2 linked regions of the Homo sapiens genome follow. The protein of the gene in region 1 purifies or fractionates together with the protein of each later gene. This does not show direct contact. Each region holds a gene or a part of one and is shown on either strand. Other genes may lie near its edges.

Region 1 (12,547 bases):
AATGCTTCAATGAACAACTAAGAACATGCTCAAAATGAATAAAAAGTGTTAGCAAAGGAATAGAAGGTATAAAGAAAAATAGATGGAGATTTTAGAACTGAAAAATACAATATCCCAAAAAAAATCAATGGATGGAAGAATGGAGGGGACAGAAGAAAGAATGAGCCTGAAGATAGAACAAGAGAAGTTATCTAATCTGAACAATGGAGAAAAAAATGGACTGAAAAAAAATGAACTGAGGTTCAGGGACCTGTAGACTATACCAAAATATCTAACATTTGCACTGTCAGAGCCCTGGAAGGAGAGGAGAAAGAGGGTAGACCTCAAAAAGTGTTTAAAGAATTCATGTTTGAAAATTGCCCAAATTTGGCTAAAGACATAAGCTTACAGGTTAAAGAAGCTGAGTGAACCCCAAACAAGATAAACACAAATAAATCCCCATCATGACACATCATTAGTCAAACTTTTGAAAACTAAAGACAAAAGATAAAAATATTGAAAGCAGCAAAAGGGAAACAATGGCTTATGAGTAGAGTAGAAAACAATTAGAAAGTCACAGGATTTCTCATCTAAGACATTGGAGGCTAGAAGAAAGAAGCACATTTTTCAAGTGCCAAAAGAAAAGAACAGCCAGCCCAGAATTCTGTATGCAGTGAAAATATGCGTCAGGAATAAAGCGGAAATCAAGACATTCTCAAATGAAGGAAGACTAAGAGCTTTTGTTGCTAGCAGACCTACTGTGATGGTTAATTTTAGATGTCAATCTGACTTGATTAAGGAATACCTAGAAACCTGGTAAAGCATTATTTTTGGGTGTGTCTGTGAAGATGCTTCCAGCAAAGATTAGTGTGTGGGTCTGAGTGGACTAGCTGGGGGAGATCCACCCGCAATGTGGGCAGGCACCATCCAATCTGCTAGGGGTTCAGAAAGAACAAAAACAGAGAAAAGGTGAATGTGTCACTCTATCTGCCAGAACTGGGATGCACTTTTTCCTTTCTTGTCCTAGGAAAACAACTCCAGGCTCCCCAGCCTTTGAACTCTAGGACTTACACAAAAGTCACCCTCCCTCCCCAACCAACTGGGTTCTCAGACCTTTGTCCTTGGACTCGGAGTTACATCACTGACTTCCCTGGTTCTGCAGCCTTGGAGCTTAGACCCCGCCACACTACCAGCATCCCAGAGCCTCCAGTTTGCAGACGACCTGTCAAGAGATTTCTCAGCCTCCACAATTGTGTGAGCCAATCCCTCTAATAAATCCCCTTACGCTTCACTTGAACTACTAACATGTTATCGCTAATTGACTGTTTTAAGTTATGTAAATATAATGTAATACCTAGAGCAACCACTACAAAATTTACAGAGATAAACTAAAAAAAATTATACAAAGAGATACACTCAAAAACCTTGCAGACAAATCAAAATAGAATTCTAAAATAATATTCAAGAAATCAATAGAAAAACAAGAAAAAAATAGAAAAACTAAAAATAGAAGCAACAAACAGAAAACAAAATATGGGTTGGAAGACTTAAGTCTCAACAGATTACGAATTACCTTATAAACAAACAGTCTACTTTATTTCTAAAAGGCAAAACTCAGAAACAACTAAAATGCCCAGTAAGTGAATGGCTAGACAAATTGTTGTACATCCACACAGGGAATCCTACTCAGCCATAAAAAGAAATGAACTATTGATACACAAAATAGCTTGACTGGATCCCAAGGGCCTTATGATGAATGAAGAGGCTGATTTCAAAACACTTATACTGTATGATTCCATTTACATAACATTCTGGAAATGACACAATTATAGAGGTGGAAAACAGATTAGTGGCCAGTGATTAGGAGTGGTCCGAGGAATGTGGATGGATGTGAGTACAAAGAGGTAACACAAGTGCTATGTTTGTGGTGATGGAATAGTTCTTTGTGTTGATCATAGTGGTAATTACATGAATCCGCATGTGATAAAATGGCATAGAGCTATATGTACACTCATTGCATCAATGTCAATTTCCTGGTTTTGATGTACTATAGTTATATAAGATGTAATTCACTGGGGAAAACTGAGTGAAGGGTACAAATGACTTTTTGCAGAAGTTTATAATAATTAAAAATTATAATTATAAAGTAATGTATTTATAATTATAAATATAAGTATCATTATAATTATAAAATATTTATAATTATTTTTAAATAATGGTATTTTTAAATAATTGTAGATTTTAAATAATTGTAGGTTTAGATAATTGTAGATTCCCAGGAGAATCTACAATTATCTAAAAATAGAGTTTAAAAAGTCTCATAAAAGTCTCATAAAAGGCATGGTGGCTTACACCTGTAATTCCCAGCACTTTGAGAGGCCAAGATGGGTGAATTGTTTGAGTTCAAGAGTTCGAGACCAGCGTGGGCAACATGGCAAAACTCTGCCCTAGAAAACACACACACACACAAAATTAGCTGGATATGTTGGCGCGTACCTGTAGTTTAAGCTACTCGAAATGCTGATGTGGATCACCTGAGCCCAGCACGTCAAGGCTGCAGTGAGCCATGATGGTGCAGTTGCACTCCAGCCTGAGTAACGGAGCAAGATAAAAAAAAAATAACATAAACTATACATATGTGTGTATGTGTGTGTATAAAGTCTAGAAAAGCAATGATAGGCACTACAAAAAGTTAGCAGAGTTATGAACGTATCTGTGTTATTTCAATATTTTTTAAAAGAATGCCTTTATGAACTTCTCATATAAAAAAGAAATAAAAGTAATGTAAAACTGTAAAAAATTCAGATGTACATAAAAATATAAACAAGATGGAAATTGCCTGTTCTGTGATGCCACAGATAATTTCATTAATTCACCTAACAAATATTTACTGAATACATCCTATAGAGCTATGATCTATCACGATTTTAGTGTGCATTTCAGACCTTTCCTGTACCTCCAGAGTTATATACAAATTGTAATCATTCATTGATATGTATTGTTACAAGCGTAATATGTACAGCTGGCCCTCTGGATCCACAGGTTCCAAAACTACGGATTCAACCAACCTCGGGTTTGAAGTATTAGGGGAAAAACCCAAAGATAATAAGACAACAATAAAAAATAATGGAAGTAAAAGCAATACAGTATACCAACTATTTACATAGGATTTCCATTGTATTAGATATTATAAGTAATTGAGAGATGATTTAAAGTGTATGACAGGATGTGTATAGGTTATATGCAAATACTATGCTATTTTATATCAGGGACTGGAGCAGCCTTAGATTTTGTTATTTATTGGGGGCCCTAGAACCAATCCCCTACCAATACCAAAGGACAACTGTTACATCATAAGCTCTTATTACTTAACATTCATTATTCATTCATTCAGCATATATTTATTGAGCATCTATGTTAGCCAATATCATGCTAGGTTCTGAGAATGGAAAGGTGAATAAATTGTCTGTTCCTTAACAAAATTTACTGATATGGTTTGTCTTTGTGTCCCCACCCAAATCTCATCTCAAATTATAATCCCCACGTGTTGAGGGAGGGGCTTGCTGGGAGGTGATTGGATCATGGGGGTGGTTTCCTCCATGCTGTTCTCATGATAATGAGGAGCTCTCACGAGATCTGATGGTTTAAAAGGGGCAGGTTCCCCTGCGTGCACGCTCTCTCTCTCTCCTGCTGCCATGTAAGACATGCCTTGCTTCCTCTTCACCTTCTTCCATGATTGTAAGTTTCCTGAGGCCTCCCTAGCCCTGTGGAACTGTGAGTCAATTAAACCTCTTTTATTTAGAAATTACCCAGTCTCAGGTAGCATCTTTATAGCAGTGTGAAAACTAATATGCTTACAATATAGTGGGAGAGAATGTCACTAAAGAAAGAATATTTCCAAGAAGTATACAATTATAGATTATGTCAAGTTCAGACAACTGTAAACAATGTTCTGAATATCCATCTGTGAAAGGAAAGGGTGATGGCTATGATGGCAAGATACCATGGCATGTTTATTATTGATGGGAATGAGCCAGTAGAAAGAGGTTAAAAATACAAGAGCAAGAGAAGGGAATCCTGGATTTATAGAAAGCTTCCTTAGAAGGAAGAAGCCGGAGAACAAGTTAAAGGGTTGGCTTCAAATAGAAGCGAACTGCCTCAACTGAAATAAGCAAGAGTGAGGATGACTGAAAATATACCTTAGTTTGTAGATTCAGAGGTTTGAAGAATTGCCAAAATATGGGACAATGTCATCTGCCTAGAGCAAAGGAGTATATTGGAAGTTCTGAGGTTTGAAGAGAATGGAGTTTTTAAGTAGTAGTTTGGGGAAAGCATGCTGAATAGAGAAGGGCAGTAACTGGGCATGCTTCATTAAGAACCTGTATTCTGTCATGTGGGGCAGATTCTAAATATTTTCAGCTCTCTTACTGCAGGCAAGATAAAGGCAAAGGAGTAGGTATTAGAAGAGAGAGACAAACTTCTAGAGGGAACTAAATTTTTGAAGAGGATTGTCTTCCAACTGGGAAGAGAGGGAAAGCTTTTTGAGGGGAGTAGATCTGAGCTGGGCAAGAGAACACACTTGCTAGAGAAAGAAAATGGCCAGAGAGAGAAAAGGGGAGAAAAAAGTCTGGGGGAGATGGAGATAAAAGCAGAGTAGTGGGGGATTTCTGGCCTAGGTGCAGGAATGTCCTTTTATCTTCCAAAGTAAATGTGGTCACAGTAATATTAACAGTTTGTCATCTGATGTTGTGAAATTGTTTCCATATATTATTTAGACTCTCAGACCTGACAATCTATGGAGGAATTCCCAGGCATCTTTAGCTGCTACAGAGATGCATGAATGAAGGACAAGTATATTATCCTCCACACATTAGAAGAGAGGCTCCAGGGAGCAACAGGAGGCAAAAGTTCTTCTTTTCTTTTTTTTTTTTTTTTTTTTTGAGATAGTCTTGCTCTATCACCCAGGATGGAGTGCAGTGGCATGATCTTGGCTCACTACAACCTCCACCTCCCAGGCTCAAGTGATTCTCATGCCTCAGCCTCCCGAGTAGCTAGGGTTAAAGGCACATGCCACCACACCTAGCTAATTTTTTTTATTTTTAGTAAAGACTGGGTTTCACCATGTTGGCCAGGCTGGTCTTGAACTCCTGACCTCTAGTCATCTGCCTGTCTTGGCCTCCCAAAGTGCTGGGATTACAGGTGTGAGCCACACTGTGCCCGGCCAACATTTATCATTTGTGTTGAGACTATCCCAACCTTTCTCCTCTATTTTGAAATACAAAATAAATTATTGATTACTATAGTCACCCTACTGTGCTGTGGAACGCTACAACTTATTCCTTCTGTCTAACCATATTTTCGCTCCTTTTAACTTCTCTTCATCTCCTTCTCCCTCCTTATCCTTCCCAGCCTCTGGTAACCACAATTTTACTCTCTATCTCCATGGAGTCAACTTTTTTTTAGCTCCCACATATGAGCACCAAACTTCAATGTAAGACCCAAAACTATGCAGCTATTCCAAGAAAACGATTTGAGAAAATGCTTGAAAATGTTGGTCTGGGCAATGATTTTTTTTTTTTTTTTAATTAAGACTTTCTGAAGAAAAGGGCATACTTTTCACTGAAAAAGTTTGAGTTTTTTAAATGAGCAGATACTCATGCATTACTAGTGCAGCCAAAAATTATCAAAAGTAGGGAAGAATGCAAAATAGCGTGTGCCTCTTAACTAAAGAACTGTTAAGATACAAAACTTGGCTCTTTGCTGCCTTTCCCGCACTGCCAAGAGGGAAACATGAATTAGTTACATTGCCGTGGTGCTCACTGGGAGTTCGCTGTATGGACCAGATGGGTACTGCTCCGAATTTCCATTCAAGTCTGACATTCTTTTGTCAGCGTTTGTGTAACCGGTTTTCCTTGCATTCAGAGGAAAGACAGCATGGAAGTATGGATGGGAAGGTTGAGACGATTGGATACTGTATGGTAACCTCGATCGCAGCTCTCCTATGAGACTTGCTTCTTGGATTCTGAGTCACTTAAGCTTGCCCCTTCTCTTTCCTGACCCTCTTCCGTTTCCCCTTAGATTGGAGATTCTCCTCAGATTCTAAGTCTCTGAAATTATTAGTGTTGGCAGCCCCTGGGCCCATGGAGGGGTCTCAAGTCTTCAGTTCTCAAAGATCACCTTTTAAGCTTCATTCGGAACATGACACAGCCACACGAGTCCTAGCCCTGAATCTCACGAAGACCTCAGTACACCTGGAAAAGGCAGCACACCCAGTTACGACACTACTAGAGACGTCACACGCCTCAGCACCCATCCGCTCCCAGCCCAGAACGAGCGCACGCGCAGAACGAGAGAGCGGCCACCCAGGGATCGGCGCTATCTGCACAGCGGTTACAGTCTCGGAAAGGCCTGGCTTCTTCGTGGCTTTGTGGAGATCCCTTACAGCGGCCATTTGATTAGCACCCGAAGAGATTCAAAGGAAGCAGTTGTTCCGTCCCCAACATATTTCCGTTTCAAACCACCCACTTCCGGTTTTTCAGCCGGTTCCGGTCCCGCCCTTCACTTCCGGTCGCTTTCGGTCTCTCAGCGGCCGGTTTCTGCGTCCGCTGCCGCAGGTTCCACCGCGCTCCAGGTGAGGGGTTGCGGGGCACCCTGGCGCGCTGCCCTTGGAGACGCTGTTGGGGCTCGGGGACAGTGGCTTTGCGGCCCGCGCGGCGTGGCTTGCACTGCGGCGGGCTGGGGATAGTGTCTGTCCTAGTCTGACGCCCAGGCCCCTAGCCCCGGCCCGCTTAGTCGCGGGGGCCGCTGTCCTCCCATCCAGCAGTCTAGCCTATTTGGAGGGCTTTCTGTTTCCCAGTGGGTTTTGCGTCCCCAAACTTCATTCCTCCGTCTTCTCAGGCTTGTCCATCCCTCCCCTCAACCTCCTTGTTGAAGGCATCCCGGCCTTTTTGGTTCTGGAGCCTCCACCTGCCTCCTAATGCTCCCCTAAGTCAGTTAGCACAGCCCCCGACCCTGCACCACCTCGCAGTTGTTGCTGGTGTGCGGTTCTCGCCGGAGTTCTTAGTGCTTCACGGTTATCTTTTGCTGGGATTGTTGAAAGTTAACCTCCCGTTAATTCCCAAAGTGTTACTTTTACTGCTATACTTTAAAATTTCTTCATTTGCCACTTTTTAGGTTTGTGGTCCCGGGCAAGTTTAATTTCTTTTCAGGATTCTCATTTGTATAATGAGGACAACAGCTGTTGGTTCAGGATTGTGAAGCTTCAATGAGATAATTGTTTAGCATGTTTTTATTCCATCATGAACACCATTTGTATTGTGTTTTACAGTTTACAAAGTGCTGTCACAGGTGTTACTTCATACCTTAACACTACTCCTGTCCAGTGAATATTAGTAGCCTCATCTTGTTGAGAAGACTGAGGCCAAGAGGTGGATTGACTAGGCAAAGTCAACACAGTATGTTAGGTAGAACTCCAACCTAAACAGCTATTCTTGACCCTAGGTTGACCATATGGAAGTGTATTCTTTGCTTGCTTGTTTGGGTTTGCCAACTTCACTCCTCCCCACACCCCAAATCATTTTTCAGCTTATAAATCTGATGGGATCTGAAATGATACAAAATACTAAGAAAGAAGGTTAAATGTGAAAGCAAAATAGCTCATGCATTTATATCACACTGCTTCATTGGTGTGAACGGTCTTAATGATGAAATAAGGTTCAGTAACTTTTAAACAAATCTTAAAGACATATGCATTTACAATTTTTATGGTGTTTGTTTCGCTTGGCCCTTTAAGGCATTTGCCAACTTGGAATTTCCACTTGTGGGATAGGTGCTTCGTAACGTTTTTATGCTGCTTTATTAACCATATAGAGCCCATGCCCTCTGGCACATTTTTTTTAAGGCTGAAAACATTGAAGAGCCTGTAGTACTGACTCTCAAATTTGAGCATTCATCAGAGGTGAGGAGGACTGACCTTGTTAAAACACAGATTCCTAGGTCCCTTCTCTCCACCCCAATTACATTTCTACCAAATTACCAAGTGAGGTCAATGCTGTTCGTTAGCCCAGGGACCATGCTTTGAAAACCACTAGTCTAGAAGAGCAATCACTTGTCCAGGGTCACCTGGAACTCAGATGATTTCACTCCAAACTCTGCACTACTACGCATCACAATATATGCGATATTAGTGCTGGTTGCCTTTCTAGCTCTCGTAGGATTCCCTTTTATTCTTATGTCTTACAGAAAATATTTAAACTGTATTTCAGTTTAACTCAAAAGGTCCACTTTTAATTGAAGAATATAACATTTGTTATAGTTCTGTCTAAAATGGAATACGTTACCCTAAATTAAGACACTTGCTTTACATTTTCAGTAGAACACATTGTAAACATAGGAGTAAATATACATTTATAGTTCATATTTGTATTCATATATGAGTAAATATAAATATGAATTTATGGCTCTCTCTTCTAATTGGCCTTTTAGTAGGAGACACTGTTTTTAAATTATTTTTGGAAGTGGAGATTAAAAATTTAACCTCTTTCTTGCAGTTGGTCCTAATAGTTGCATGAAGAGTGCAATCAAATGTTTCATCAAATAAGTGAAAGCATTGGAAATACCAATACCTTGAGATTAGAAAATCCAGTTCTCTGGACTGTGGGAGGAATGAGTTTAATGAAAAATAGAAAGCTTTATGCAGGAAGAGACATATGTTTGGTTATTTACATGAGTGGCAGCCACTATATAATCTTTGTGTGCTTAGATCTGTACCCATGGGTTTTGTATTTTCTGATTGATATGGTTTGGCTGTGTCCCTACCAAAATCTCAACTTGAATTGTATCTCCCAGAATTCCCACTTATTGTGGGAGGGACCCAGTGGGAGGTAATTGAATCATGGGGGCCGATTTTTCCCGTGCTATTCTTGTGAATAAGTGAATAAGTCTCATGAGATCTGATGGATTTATCAGGGGTTTCCGCTTTTCTGTCTTCCTCATTCTCTCTTGCCACTGCCATGTAAGAAGTGCTTTTTACCTTCTGCCATGATTCTGAGGCCTCCCTAGCCATTGTGGAACTGTAAGTAGCTGGGATTACAGGCGCCCACCACCACCTCTGGCTAATTTTTTTTTGTATTTTTAGTAGAGATGGGGTTTCACCACATTGGCCAGGCTGGTCTTGAACTCCTGACCTAAGGTGATTCACCTGCCTCAGCCTCCCAAAGTTCTGGGATTACAGGCATGAGCCACTGTGGCCAGCCTTGGGTATGTCTTAGCAGCATGAAAACAGACTAATACGGTAAATTGGTACTAGTAGAGTGGGGCATTGCTGAAAAGATACCCGAAAACGTGGAAGCAACTTTGGAACTGGGTAACAGGCAGAGGTTGGAACAGTTTGGAGGGCTCAGAAGAAGACAGGAAAATGTGGGAAAGTTTGGAACTTCCTAGAGACTTGTTGAATGGCTTTGCCCAAAATTCTGATAGCTATATGAACCATAAGGTCCAGGCTGAGGTGGTCTCAGATGGAAATGAGGAACTTGTTGGGAACTGGAGTAAAAGTGACTCTTGTTATGTATTAGCAAAGGTACTGGCAACATTTTGCCCCTGCCCTAGAGATTTGTGGAACTTTGAACTTCAGAAAGATGATTTAGGGTATCTGGCAGAAGAAATTTCTAAGCAGCAAAGCACTCAAGAGGTGATTTGGGTACTGTTAAAGGCACTCAGTTTTATAAGGGAAGCAGAGCATAGAAGTTTGGAAAATTAGCAGCCTGACTATGCAGTAGAAAAGAAAAACGCATTTTCTGTGGAGAAATTCAAGCTGGCTGCAGAAATCTGCGTAAGTATCAAGGAGCCTAATGTTAATCCCCTAGACCGTGGGGAAAATGTCTCCAGGCTATGTCAAAGACCTTCATGGCAGCCCCTCCCAGCACAGGCCCGGAGGCCCAGGAAGGAAAAAAGGTTTCGTGGGCCCGGCCCAGGGTCCCCGCGCTGTGTGCAGCCTAGGGACTTGGTGCCCTGTATCCCAGCCACTCCAGCCATGGCTGAAAGGGGCCAACTTACAGCTTGGGCTGTGGCTTCAGAGGGTGGAAGCCTCAAGCCTTGGTAGCTTCCATATGGTGTTGAGCCTGTGGGTACACAGAAGTCAAGAATTGAGGTTTGGGAACCTGTGCCTAGATTTCAGAAGATATATGGAAACTCTTGGACGCCCTGGCAAAAGTTTGCTGCAGGGGTGGGGCCCTCATGGGGAACTTCTGCTAGGACAGTGTGGAAGGGAATTGTGGGGTCAGAGCCCCCATACAGAGTCCCTACTGGGGCACTGCCTAGTGGAGCTGAGAGAAGAGGGCCACCACCCTCCAGGCCCCAGAATGGCAGATCTGACAACAGCTTGTACTGTGTGCCTGGAAAATCCACAGACACTCAATGCCAGCCCGTGAAAGCAGCTGGGAGGGAGGGTTTACCTTGCAAAGCCACAGGGGTGGAGCTATCCAAGACCATAGGAACCCACCTCTTGCATCAGTGTGACCTGGATGTGAGATCTGGAGTCAAAGGAGATCATTTCGGAGCTTTAACATTTGACTGCCCCGCTGGATTTCGGACTTGCATGGGCCCTGTAACCCCTTTGTTTTGGCCAATTTCTCCCATTTGGAATGGCTATATTTACTCAATACCTGTACCCCCATTATACCTAGGAAGTAAATAGCTTTCTTTTGATTTTACAGGCTCATAGGCAGAAAGGACTTAACTTGTCTTAGATGAGACTTTGGACTGTGGACTTTTGAGTTAATGCTGAAATGAATTAAGACTTTGGGGGACTGTTGGGAAGGCATGATTGGTTTTGAAATGTGAGGACATGAGATTTGGAGGGGCCAGGGGCAGAATGGTACAGTTTGACTGTGTGCCCACCAAAATCTCAACTTGAATGATATCTCCCATAATTCCTATGTGTTATGAGAGGGACCCAGGGGAAGGTAATTGAATCTTGGGGGGTGGTCTTTCCCATGCTATTCTCATGACAATGAATAAGTCTCATGAGATCTGATGGGTTTATCAGGGGTTTCCGCTTTTGCTTCTTCCTCATTCTGTCTTGCCACTGCCATGTAAGAAGTGCTTTTTGCCTTCCACCATGATTCTGAGGCCTCCCCAGCCATTCTGCAACTGTAAAGTCCAATTAAACCTCTTTCTCTTCCCAGTCTTGGGTATGTCTTTATTGGCAGTGTGAAAACAGACTAATACACTGATCTTTGATGCCTTAACTCTTGTATGTTCAACTGAAGAGATACAATTGTGGAGGAGAAGAAACATAAGATTTAGTCAGAAGACCTGTTCTGTAACTAGCTATGTGTCTATGTACAGATTGTATAGCCTCTCAAAACTCCTGTTTCCTTAATTGTAAAAGAGGGAAAACTTACCAAATTACTTTCTCTAATGAGATTGTGTAAAAACTTCAATTCATAAAATATGAAACAAAGAATGGCTATTTACTATTTATTTAGCACAGTGCCTGCCTGGAACATAGTAAGCTTTTAGTTTAAAAAGATTTTTGTTTAACCAATACTTAATTTATGTAGTGTTTACTAGGTGCCAGGCACTATGTACCTTGTAAATGTTAATTAAGTTAATCCTCATAAAAGCCCTAAGAAGTAGGTAGTATCATCATCCCTATTTTACAGATGAGGAAACCTAGACACTGAGAGTCAAGTAACTTCTCAAAGTCAGATGGCTAAGTGGGAGAGATCTGGGATCTGAACCCAGGTCATCTGGCTCTAGAATCTGTGTTCTTAACTACACCACACTACCTTTCAAATGTTAAATGAACATGGATGGTCTGTCAGGGAAGGACTTGCTTGTAGCATCAACCTGACCAAATAGAACAGGAGGAATGGTAGCTCATAATTGCACATTTCCAGTTGAACAGTGAGACTCAGAGTATTAGAAAGTAGTAACTCTAAGCCAAAAATTAGGAGTGTGGGGGAATTTAACTTTGAGTCCTAGTATCTTTTGGTGTTCTGGTAGCACTCCTGTATGGACAAAAATCCTCTCTATCATAAGTTGTAAAATAAGGCTTAAACTGTACACATAAAACTTAAAAGTTTGGCTTCAATAAACAGTATCTATTTTAACTTGTTCATTTTTGTCTTCCTTTCCAGGTATTTTTTTTTCTGAAGGAAAGCTGCTTCCTCATATGTTTCAAGAATGGCTCTCCCTATCATTGTAAAATGGGGTGGACAGGAGTATTCAGTGACCACACTTTCAGAAGATGATACTGTGCTCGATCTCAAACAGTTTCTCAAGACCCTTACAGGAGTTCTTCCAGAACGCCAAAAGTTACTTGGACTCAAAGTTAAAGGTAATTCTCTCCCCTCTTCAGATTTTTTGCATTGAATTTTTAGTATTATGAATTTTAATAATTATTTTGAATATAATTGTTTAATAATTTATACTTGCTATTTGTAGTTTAGTAAGTCTCTCCCTTTCGAGATTTCTCTGGTAGAAATATTCTTAAAATTGTTTTAGTGGTAAAAGTAAGAATATTAAAGTGTTCTCGAAAATACCATGATTATTAAGATTACTTTTG
Region 2 (12,305 bases), on another chromosome or scaffold:
TAATGAACTCTTATCCACTGGGAAAACCTCCCTAGCAAACGATACTAGCCACTAGGCCTCTGATCCAGGAATGTTTGTAGTGGTGGTCTGGCAGAGAAAACCTTATTTCCACTTACCTCACAGTTCAATAACAACGTTATACACTGCACTGGTATAATATGGAGCTATGAAGGAAGTTAATTTGAATATACTTGCATGTGTAAAATGACCAAAGATCTATTCACATAGTTTGGGCAGTGGATTTAGCATTTGTATTCAATTCCATAAATACTTTTGAGGGCCTCTTCTATGGTAAGCATTCTGCTTAATACTTAAGAGAATTCAAAGATGAATAAGGCTTAGTCCTGACATTCAGGAACATAAAGTACATGGTACTTAGGTTTATGCAGGTTTAGAATATTTCAAGAATTCTGCTTTTTTTTCCAGTGGTTCCACTTTTTGCCTGCATAACAAATGAAGTATGTCAGTAATGCTTCTGAAGTCCAGTAGGTACTGTATGACTTCACTGGCTGTCCTGAGAGAGGGAGAAGAGTGAACAAGAGTAGCAAGAGTTGTTTGTTACTGGGTTTTAGGGTCTAAAGTCAGTGCACAGACAAAAACTGTGTTTGGTTAAAATTGCCCTTAAAGACCCTTAAATTACCTGCCAAGTACAGTTTTGTGTATGTAACTCTATATAGTAATTCTTATATAAGTTAAAGAACTGAGCTAAAATAAGGGAAAGAAAGAGAAAATCTATATGCAGATAATCAGGCATGACTTTTCTGCCTTTAGGATAATGGTCAGATCTTCAGTGGTGTTTAGGGGGTTAAGTAAAGAATTGAATAGTATTCCCACTTGTCTAGGTTCCTTCTTTTTTTTTTTTTTTCTTTTTTGAGTCAGGGTCTCGTTCTGTTGCTCAGATTGGAGTGCAGTGGTGCAGTCTCAGCCCACTGCAACTTCCAGCTCCTGGGTGCAAGTGATTCTCGTGCCTCAGCCTCCTGAGTAGTTGGGATTATAGGCATGCACCGCCATGCCTGGCTAATTTTTTGTATTTTAAGTAGAGACAGAGTTTCGCTATGGTGGCCAGGCTGGTCTTAAACTCCTGTCCCCAGGTGATCCACCCACCTGGGCCTCCCAAAGTGTTCTGGGATTACAGGTGTGAGCCACTGTGCCTGGCCTCTTTTTTTAAATTATTATTATTATTTTTGTTGTTGTTGTTGAGACAGGGTCTCACTCCTGTCGCCTGGGCTGGAGTGCAGTGGCACAATCATGGCTCATTGCAGCCTCGAATTCCCAGGCTCAGGTGATCCTTCCACCTCAGCCTCCCAACTACCTGGGAAAACAGGTGTGCACCACCACCCCTGGCTAATTTTTATATTTTTAGTAGAGACGGGGTTTCATCATGTTGCCCAGAATGGTCTTAAACTCCTGGGCTCGAGTGATCTGCCTGCCTCCGCTTCCCAAAGTGCTGTGATTACAGGCATGAGCCACTGCACCTGGCCAAGGATTGCTTTCATTATGATTTAATATGCACTAATAGACTTGTGAGGATAAAGTACAATAATACATGTGAAAACACTCAGCATAGACCCTGAAACATAGTTGCTGCTCAATAAATATTTGTTAGGATTTGAATCTGAATCTCTCCTAATTTGACAGTGGTATTTGAAATGTTGTAAGCAATTACTTAACCACACTGCTGTGTGTCTTTCCATACTGACATTTTCTGTGTGGGCCCACTGAGTTATGGATCATTCTTGTGCCTTTTGGCACTGGTCCCATTCTACAGGGGGATTAAGCTCCAAAGTGAATGCGTTATTACATGCACACCTGATGCTATTCCTCTGGGTTGTACCTTTGTTGGTATGACAACTTTTATTTTTGAAGTTTTAACACTTGAGATACTCTATTTTTAAAAATACTGCAGAATGATGGAAATGTTCTTTTTCTGTGGCTTATACTTTTGAAAGTCATATTATACTTCTTAATAAAGTAACATTTAAAATATTTTTTTAATAAACTATGACTCTGAGGTAGTCCTAACTTCTAGCCTCTCTTTTCCCAATATCCTTTTTGTTCCTGTTTTCGTTTTTTTAGAGACAGGGTCTTGCTCTGTCACCCATGCTGTAGTGCAGTGGCACAGTCATAACTCACTTGAACTTCTGGGGTCAATTGATCCTCTCCACTCAGCCTCCTAAGTAGCTGGGATTACAGGCATGTACCACCATGCCTAGAAATTTAAAAAAAAATTTTTTTTAGAGATGGGGGTCTCACTATGTTGCCCAGGCTAGTCTCAAACTCCTGGGCTCAAGCGATCTTCCCACCTTGGCTTCCCAAAGCTCTAGGATTACAGGCATGAGCCACTGTGACTGGCCCCCAATATCCTTTTTAAAATAAACTTTTAAAAGATTGGCATCTAAGACGCCTTTCTTTTTTTTTCACTTCTTGTGTATTCGTGTTCCTTTCCTTCTACGGCAGAAACCACAGTGTGTTGATGAATGAATAGTTTAAGCAAGGCTGCTAGAAGTTTCATTCCACTATAGAACTGGTTCTGTTTGTGGCCAAGAATTGCTGTCAGTACTAACCAGCTATTTCATAGCTGTTGCATGAGGAAAGGGACTAGAGTAGGATTGTACCCCTCAGTCTATGCTTTGTTTACTCTGAGTGTACAAAAGATGGTGGGCTTTAGGAACAGGGGTAGTGAATAATTTGGGGCACTGTTATTCCTTCTGCTTTACTTTAAGTATGACTCTTTATCTCTTCTACCAGGATATGAATTGTCTCCCACGGCAGCAGCTAACTTCACACGCCGAAACCTGGCTGACTGTCTTCGGAGTCGGGTAAGTAATATATCAGACATTGTTAGATAGAGCAGAAAAATCCTTTGTGCTTCTTTTATATTCTCATTATACATGAGTAGTATTTTTGCCCTTTTTTGGCCTTCCAGAACCCCTCCTGTTGCTACTTGTTCATTCTTAAGTCCAATGTCTTTGTGCACAGTTGTTATTAATAGGTACAGCCCAAAGGGCAAATATTCATTCCCAGAGAATTGGTTGGGACACACCAATATGAAGGCCTGTGACAACTTACCCTTTTTTTTTCCCCCTAAAAACTATTTTTTAGAGCAGTGTTAGGTTCACAGCAAAATTGAGAAGAAGTATAAAGATTTCCCACATTCCTCCTCACCCACATGTATAGCATTCCCCATTATCAGCATCTTCCACCAGGGTGATACATTGTCACAAATGATGAGCCTATATTGACAGTAATCACCCAGGTCCATAGTTTACATTAGGGTTTACTTTTGCTGTTGTGGATGTTATGGGTTTGGACAAATGTATAATGACATGTATCTACCATTACAGGATACAGAGTATTTTCACTGCCCTAAAAATCCTTTGTACTCTACTTATTCATCCTTCTCCATCCCCACAACTCCTGACAACCACTCATCTTTTTACTTTCTCCATGGTTTTGCCTTTCCCATCATGTCATATAGTTGGAATCATGGATTATGCAGCCTTTTCAGATTGGCTTCTTTTATTTGGTAATACACGTTTAAGGTTACCCTATGTCTTTTCATGGCTTGATAGCTCATTTCTTTTTAACATTGAAAAATACTCCATTGTCTAGATATACTACAGGTTATTTATCCATTCACCTACTGAAGGACATCTTGGTTGCTTCCAAGTTTTGGCAATATGAATAAAGCTAATGTATACATCCATGTGCAGGTTTTTGTTTGAACATAAGTTTTTTTTTGCGTAAATACCAAGGAGTGTGATTGCTGGATCATATAGTAAGAGTACGTTTAGTTTTTTCAAAGTGTTTTTGTAACAAACCATATTACTTAATACCTGTGACTGAAAGTCTCTATGTGTTAGTGAAAGTAGAACTTTGAAAATAATAATTCAGATTATTTTTATTTTTATTTTTTTGAGATGGAGTTTCACTCTTGTTGCCCAAACTAGAGTGCAATGGTGCAATCTTGGCTTACTGGAACCTCTGCCTCCTGGGTTCAAGTGATTCTCCTGCCTCCATTTCCCAAGTAGCTGGGATTACAGGCATGCACCACCACGCCCAGCTAATTTTGTATTTTTAGCAGACACGGGGTTTCTCCATGTTGGTCAGGTGTCAGGCTGGTCTCGAACTCCTGATCTCAGGTGATCTGCCCGCCTTGGCCTCCCAAAGTGCTGGGATTACAGGCGCGAGCCACCGCACCTGGCCGGTAATGTGGATTTTTATCTCGAGATTGCTTATCTGTGTTTCTCTTTTTTTCTTTTTCTTTTTTCTTTTTTTTTTTGAGACGGGGTCTCACTCCAGTTGCCCAGGCTGGAGTGTAGTGGTGTGATCTCAGCTTACTGAAGCCTCAACTTCCCGGGTTCAGGTGATTCTCCCACCTCAGCCTCCCAAGTAGCTGGGACTACAGGTGTGCACCACCACATCTGGCTAATTTTTTGTATTTTTAGTGGAGGCAGGATTTCACCATGTGGCCCAGGCTGGTCTTGAACTCCTGGACTCAAGCAATCTGCTGGCCTTGGCCTTTCAGGGTGCTGGGATTATAGGAATGAGCCACTCACTGTACCTGGCGTACTTACCTGTGTTTTTCTATGACTTTTTCCCAAAGCATACAGCATTGTTCCTCCTTACTTATTCTAGCCTTGTTGCTATTCTAGAGCTGTCTCCATTTCATCGACAGCATGTTAAAAGATGCAACACTAAGTTAAGGATTGAATGCATTAAAGATTGTGTAGGATGTGCTAGGAAAGTTCATATGGTTGCTAAAGGTGTGTGTTATTCCCTTCCCACAGGGACTAAATAAATAGAGCCTTACCACGTGATCTCACCCCCTGTGCCTGTTTACTTATCTATGAAATGGAGATAACTTCCTAACCCCACAGGGGTGCCAGGAAAATGAATGCTTGTAAATCATAATATTTAACATTCATGTGACTTTTGCCCAAAGCATTTTGCTTAATAATTTAATCTACTCACTATTCCACTGAGAAAGATAGTCTCTATCACTGAGATGAAGTGAAAGGCATAAAGTGTCAAAGGGACTAGCTCCAGGTCACACAGCAGGTCAGACAAAGCTAAAATAATGGTGCCATAATTATTTGACTATTCTGCCTTTGGTTCTTCAGTAGTGTTTCTAGAACACTGATGCTATTCATATTTTTATTATGGTTTGAGTTTTCATCTGTACTTGCTTAAAATAACAAGTTACTTTTTTTAAAGTTACTTACTACAGATCTATAAAGCAGTTTATTTTCTAGTGCCTAATAATCTTTGACTGATAATTTCTCAATAAATAGTACCTCTCAGTGCTAGCTTTGACCAAGGGCTTGTACAATCTGAGGGATCATGAAGTTTGAAGAGAAGCTAGAGACATGTAGGATTGAGAGGAGGAGGCAAATTTACATACATTGTTTTGTCCTGGGTGAAAGATCAGTAGTCTTTTCTTTAAAAAAAAAAAAAAAAATATATATATATATATATATATATATATATATATATTTTTTTTTTTTTTTTTTTCTTCCAAGAAAGTCATTGTCACCAAGTGGTCTTTTCTTCACTCCTCCTTGAGAAAGGAAAATGGGTCAGATATTAGTTTTTCTGTCACCCAGAAGTTCCTGTGGTGTTCAGCATTTTATGACTTGCCATGTACGATGTTCCTCTGACTTATCAGGCAGAACCGGAGTAAGAATTCCAGCTTTGGGCACAATAAATACTGTGTCATAAATATCACAGACATTAAGTGAATTAAGCTCCTTTTTGGAATTGAGATAAGAATGGCAGTGTGCTTCATGCAAATGCAGTGAATCTGGTTTAATCTTCTCCTAGCAGAAATGTTTGATGTCTTAACAAATATCCCTTGTAGACAGTGACATGGGGCTCTGGTAAATATTGACTACCTCTGCCTGAGCTTTTCCAGTAGGTCCAATCTCTGCTCCCCCATCTCCTTATCAAAATAGATTCTTAGTTCTAAAATATGAATTTATATTTTAGTCGTCTTATTCTGGGAAGAGAGATGATAGTTTGTCAGTGTTCCTAATAAGTGCAAAGTCACCAAATTTAGTATATTTATATGGTCACACCAGTTGGCAGATGTGACTCATTTTGGGTCAGCCAGTTACCATGTATAACTTCTGTGTCTGTAGCTCAAATTGTTTGATTTCTAATTTGCTCTGTGTATGTGTGGTGGTTTGGTTGGGAGGACATTTACTACCACTGAGTATATAATGAATCTTACATAAACTGGTTCATTAAAATGTAGGCAATTTAGCATTGTGGTTAAGAGCATAGTCTCTGGAATTGGACTACCTGGGTTTGAATATTTGCTTACTGACTTACTAGCTGGATGTCTTTGGACAAATTCTAAGCTTAATTTCCCTACTTACCAATTTCAAAAAGTTATTATGAAGATTAAATAAGGTAATAATGCAAAGCTCTTACTTTTTTTTTGAGACAGGATCTCACTCTGTCATCTAGGCTGGAGTGCAGTGGTATGACCACAGCTCTCTGCAGCCCCTTGACCTTTCAGGCCCAGATGATCCTTCCACCTCAGCCTCCCTGGCAGCTGGGACTGTAGGTGCATACCACTATGCCTGGCTAATTTTTTGTAGAGATGGGGTTTCTCCATGTTGCCAGGCTGGTCCCGAACTCCTGGGCTCAAGCAATCCTCCCGCTTCTGCTTCCCAAAGTGCTAGGATTACAGGCATGAGCCACCATGCCCAGCCCACTTGTGTTTTTATGCTGCGATTGCTGTTTGGTCAAAGAAGCAATTTAATGGCTATAAGTTAGTTTTTCGTGAGGGATCATTTGTTGTGCTTTTTTTTTTTTTTTTTTTTTTTTGAGATAGGGTCTCGCTCTGTCACCTAAGAGGTGGCACAGTCACAGCTCACTGCAGCCTCAACCTCCCGGGCTCAAACAATACTCCCACTTCAGCCTCCCAAATAGCTGGAACTACAGGCGCCAAGCCACCATGCTGGTATTGATAGGGAAAATAGAAGTAAAATAACATTGAACATATATTATGTGCTAGGATTTTTCTAGATCTACACAGTCCAGTATGGTAGCCAACTAGCCACATGGGGCTATTTAAATTTAAGTTAATTAAAATTAAATAAAACTTAAAATTCAGTTTCTGGTGGAAAATCTCCTGGTAGACTTTGCCTGAATGCTAAATCAACTTTTGTTCTTAAAAAAAAAAATTCTGTTCCTCAGTCACAGCCACATTTCAGGTACCCAATAGCCACAACTATTGTATTAGACATCACAGATCTGGAACATATCCATCATCATAGAAGTTCTCTTGGACAGTGCTATTCTAAATACTTACATATGTATCTGTTATTAAGTATCCTTATTATGACACCATAAGATGTGTGTTATCCCCATTTTACTTACAAGGATGTTAAGTATTTCTCTTAGATATGTTTCCAAAGCACATATATACTATGTTAAAGGTTAAGATTCCAGCTTCAAATATCAAACTCTTTCATGGTGTCTTCTTTATTAATTAGTGGACTAATGTACAAGTGTATTTGTGCATTTAGGGAAACATGAAATGTTCAGTTTTGTTAAAATGTCGAAATTGCACATAGTATTATATAGATAAGTTTGAATATATGTCCATTGTAGGTTTTCAATAAGTGTTTGCTGAAAAAGTGTCATCCAGCTAGGTCTATATATTCTGCTGAGAATATTAATTATGCATTTATACACTGGAAGGGAATTCTTAATGAATGGAATACCGGAAGAAGTATTCTTAATAAATGGATGTTAATTTGTATAGGAATTAAAGGCATGAAATCATCAGAAGACGAAAAAAGACAGATGGGGAAAAAATTCAGAAGCCTTCAGTTTAGTTGTTTATTTAAATGCTTGTATACATTTAAGATGGTCTCTTCTTGTTGGTTAGACCCCAAAGAGCAGAAAAAGGGCTTATACTATGCTCAAGGCTTGCTTTCTTCGGCCAGGCACAGTGGCTCATGCCGGTAATCCTAGCACTTTGGGAGGCCAAGATGGACAGATCAGTTGAGCCCAGGAGTTCAAGACCAGCCTGGCCAACATGGTGAAACCCCATCTCTACTAAAAATACAAAAAATTAGCCAGATGTGGTGGCACACACCTGTAATCCCAGTTACTCAGGAGGCTGACGCAGGAGAATAGCTTGAACCCAGAAGGTGGAGGTTGCAGTGAGCTGAGATCATGCCACTGCACTCCAGCCTGGGTGACAGAGCAAGACTCTGTCTAAAAAAAAGGCTTCCTTTCTCAAATTCTCCTTACAGTTTGACTAATGTCAGAGGATGATGAGTTATGGGGCTATTTCTTTTCTTTTTTTTTTTTGAGACGGAGTCTCACTGTGTCACCCAGGCTGGAGTGCAGGGGCACGATCTCGGCTCACTGCAAGCTCCACCTCCCGGGTTCATGCCATTCTCCTGCCTCAGCCTCCTGAGTAGCTGGGACTACAGGCGCCCGTCACCATGCCTGGCTACTTTTTTGTATTTTTAGTAGAGACGGGGTTTCACCATGTTGACCAGGATGGTCTCGATCTCTTGACCTCGTGGTCCACCCGCCTTGGCCTCCCAAAGTGCTAGGATTACAGGCATGAGCCACCATGCCCAGCCTATTTCTTACTTAAAATGAATTATGTGGCATATTTGATGTAGCCCATCTGAATGCCCTAAAATTATCTCCATTTAACAGATAGAGAGACAGGTATAAACCAGGCAAATCTGGTGTCCTTGGGAACGTGAAATTTTGTGGCAAGGCTTAGAGTAGGATGCTGGCCTCCATGATGTGTAATCGTCGGGTTTCACTGCCACACTGGCCAAAGAGTTTTCATTAGAACTTTTTCCGAAGTGTTTCATGAGCCTTTGGTAATTTATCTTTTTACCTATTTATTTGTAAATGCTTAGCAAGTAAACAGTAGAAATAATAAGTTGAAAAGATATCCAGCCTGATGTAGTGGTTTTCAAACTTTATTCTGTGAAGCTGCTTCAGGATACTCACCAAGGAAGACCAGTGTGCAATGCTTTTTTTTTTTTGAGGTGGAGTTTCGCTCTGTCACCCAGGCTGGAGTGCAGTGGCATGATCTCAGCACACTGCAACCTCCACCTTCCAGTTTCAAGTGATTCTTCTTCCTCAGCCTCCCGAATAGCTGGGACTACAGGCGTGCACCACCATGCCTGGCTAATTTGTGTATTTTTAGTAGAGACGGGGTTTCATCGTGTTAGCCAGGATGGTCTCGATCTCCTGACCTCGTGATCCACCCGCCTCGGCCTCCCAAAGTGCTGGGATTACAGGCGTGAGCCACCGTGCCTGGCGTTTTTTTGTTTTTGTTTTTGTTTTTTTTGAGACAGAGTCTTGCTCTCTCACCCAGTCTGGAATGCAGTGGTGTAATCTCGGCTCACTGCAACCTCTGCCTCCTGGGTTTGAGCAATTCTCCTGCATCAGCCTCCTGAGTAGCTGGGATTACAGGCATGCATCACCATGCCTGGCTAATTTTTGTATTTTTCATAGAGACGGGGTTTCACCATGTTGGCCAGGCTGGTCTCCAACTCCTGACCTCAAGTGATCTGCCCACCTCAGCCTCCCAAAGTACTGGGATTACAGGCATGAGCCACTGCACCCAGCCAAGTGTTCAGCACTTTAGCTCTGCTTCATATAGCTCAACTCAGCTTTTATCTATTTGATAGATAGGAATTCTAGGTAAAGTTTTATTTGAAAAGGTGCCATCACTGTTCCCTTACCACCAAAGAGCCCTGCAATAGGAGGGTTAATACTAGCTCTGCTGTGAGTTAGTTGAAAACCTTGGGAGAAAGCAAGCATTTGATTGGATGGTTTTTAGGGTTTGTTCCAGCCCCCAAATAGCATGATTTAAAAATCTTATGTCAAGACCACAACCAGACTTGAATTTTTATTTATTTATTTATTTTTTTAGGGAATGGGAAAGAATATGTAGGAAAGGATTTCAGGTCTTAGTCATTTCCAGCAGTGACCAAAGCTTATCCCCACACTCTGGCCTTAATTCAAGGCTGTTTGGTCTGGTTAGTAGTAGGCATGTATAGCATGCTCCTGTCCTAGAAGAAACCTGTTGCTTTGAGCCTTCTATTCTGACCATGAGAATTATTCTTCTCATGCCTTAGGTGGCTGGCACAAAGGCATCATCTGTTTATTGGTATCAGTGAGGTCCTGTGAACAGATGGCCCAGGTGAAACCCTGACTTTGCAAGTCTTGTCCCTTATACACTACCAACCATTTGTTACATGTGATTGAAATATCACTAACAAGGGTAATTTCACATGATTTTTGGCAAACGTGGTTAGCAGGATGTGACATGACGCAGCACTGCCTTCTTCCTCCATGTGCCATCTCCCTTGAGGCCTCATCTTCTCTACTTGCCCCCGTCTCACCCATGCCGAGGCTTGCCTTCAGCTCACCTGCTCCAGATGGGCAGCACAGTGGGAGGACACTGGCAAAGGCAGATGTGTTTATTTTCCGGAGACAAAATGTTGTGCTGCTGCAGATGGCAGTGCCTTGGAGCAAGAGGCAGCCTTTGACACTGCTGCCACACAGCCTGGGCATCTTGACAGACAGAGCCAGCTTACTTTTGGTGATGCGGAAATTCAAAAATAAAAAACGAAAACCAAGATGTTCATTATGCAGCTCTTGGACTGTCAGTGCAAGCAGCAGCCCTTTTAGACCTGGGGAGCAGTTTTCTTCCCTACCAAACCTTAGTCAGCTAGTGAGCTAACTGTGGATTGTCACTGTAGGCCAAGAGTTACGTGTCTGTTCATTACTTTTGTCTCCCAGCCTTAACAGGACATAAAGTAAAAACTGGAAACAAATGGCTACATTTAGATGGATACTCAGTTTGGTTCTGCAAAACATATGTGTATCCCAGGTCCCATCTCACAGGAGTCTCTTAGGATTGGGGGTGGCTCATGTTGGCCCCATTGGAGATACCGCTGTTCTGTTTTTAGTGGTCATTTTGATTATCCAAAGACCCAGAGACAGATGTGCCTTGAAGTTGAGGTGTCTCAATTAATATGACAACACTTTGTGCTTATAGTGTTTTTCTACTAGGAGGAGTAAGCATTCTGACAGCTGCCCTTTTAAGCAGTATGCGTATGCATTAGTTAAAGCTTGACTAAGTCCATTAGGAAGACAAAGACTGGCTGTTGAATCATTACACTTACTAGGATCCTAAAAAAAATAACTTGGGAAGATTATTTGAAAGTTACTGGCTTTATCAGGAAATTTTTTTTTCTTTTTCTTTCTTTTTTTTTTTTTTTAAATGTGCTGTTTTTCCTAGCCCTAGCTAGTTAGGAGTTTGCAGGTGTAAAGTCCTCCCCCTCCCCTTCCCTGTCTCTCTCCAGGGGGTTGTATGTGAGAAGGTGTTGCTTTCTCACTCAGAGAGCATATATGTGCTACCCTGTTGGATGCCTGCTGCGAGCCCAGAGAACCCCCGTGCTCATTGAATGGAATAAGCCTATTGGATGGCTGGAATTTTGCAGCCCCATAATGCCAACTTTTCACTTAAAGCATCTTTCCTATCCACAATGGGAGTGAAGCAGTATATGTACTTGGTCTAGATTTATATTGTTTTAAAACTCGTGTCTTAAAAATTTTGTGATTTCCTATTAAGGTTTGGTTTAAGCCTAAGGCAGGATAGTGCTGTGTCTGCTTAGTAGGAATGTGCTTTTACTTTTAAAATGTTTACTATTAGAAGTGCAGATTTACCCCCAACTTTTAAGATTGCTTTAAATCACTTGCCCCAGTCTGGGTAGGCATAGGTGTGGGCATGCCCTCCCACATACTCACAGATACAAACACACACAATATCCTGGCATCTTGGTGCCTCTTTTTACCTGCCCTGGCCCAAGATCATGTAGGAATATGAATTTAGGGGCTGATCTCAACAACCTCATGAGGTTTTCTTTACTCTCTCCCAAAAAACAGTTACCTAAAATGAAGGGCAGTGGGAAGGCTTTTCACAAGGGGAAAGGTGGATTTTTCTATTTCTTGACCTGAGAGGTTGTTACGTGTATATTTACTATGTTCATTCGCTATACCATGTATATTTTATGCTTTTTTTTTTCTTCTTTTTGAGACATAGTCTCGCTCTGTCGCCCAGGCTGGAGTGCAGTGGTGCTGTCTAGGCTCACTGCATCCTCTGCCTCCTGGGTTCAGGCAATTCTCCTGCCTCAGCCTCCCGAGTAGCTGGGCCTACAGGCACATGCCACCATACCTAGCTAATTTTTGTATTTTTAGTAGAGATGGGGTTTCACTGTGTTGGCCAGGCTCCCGACCTTGTG

Evidence for each region.
Region 2: the proteins of UBLCP1 (region 1) and PSMB2 purify together in Homo sapiens (affinity purification with mass spectrometry; 2 studies listed by BioGRID and IntAct, with this or other methods). This does not show direct contact.

What each region holds. Positions count from the first base shown.
Region 1 is NC_000005.10:159,256,751-159,269,297, forward strand, and holds the start of UBLCP1 (ubiquitin-like domain-containing CTD phosphatase 1), read left to right. Parts: upstream 1-6,539; 5' UTR 6,540-6,610; intron 6,611-12,119; 5' UTR 12,120-12,165; coding exon 12,166-12,319; intron 12,320-12,547. UniProt on the Homo sapiens protein: Dephosphorylates 26S nuclear proteasomes, thereby decreasing their proteolytic activity. Recruited to the 19S regulatory particle of the 26S proteasome through its interaction with 19S component PSMD2/RPN1.
Region 2 is NC_000001.11:35,621,788-35,634,092, reverse strand, and holds part of PSMB2 (proteasome subunit beta type-2), read left to right. Parts: intron 1-2,555; exon of another isoform or gene 2,556-2,657; intron 2,658-2,748; coding exon 2,749-2,819; intron 2,820-12,305. UniProt on the Homo sapiens protein: Non-catalytic component of the 20S core proteasome complex involved in the proteolytic degradation of most intracellular proteins. This complex plays numerous essential roles within the cell by associating with different regulatory particles.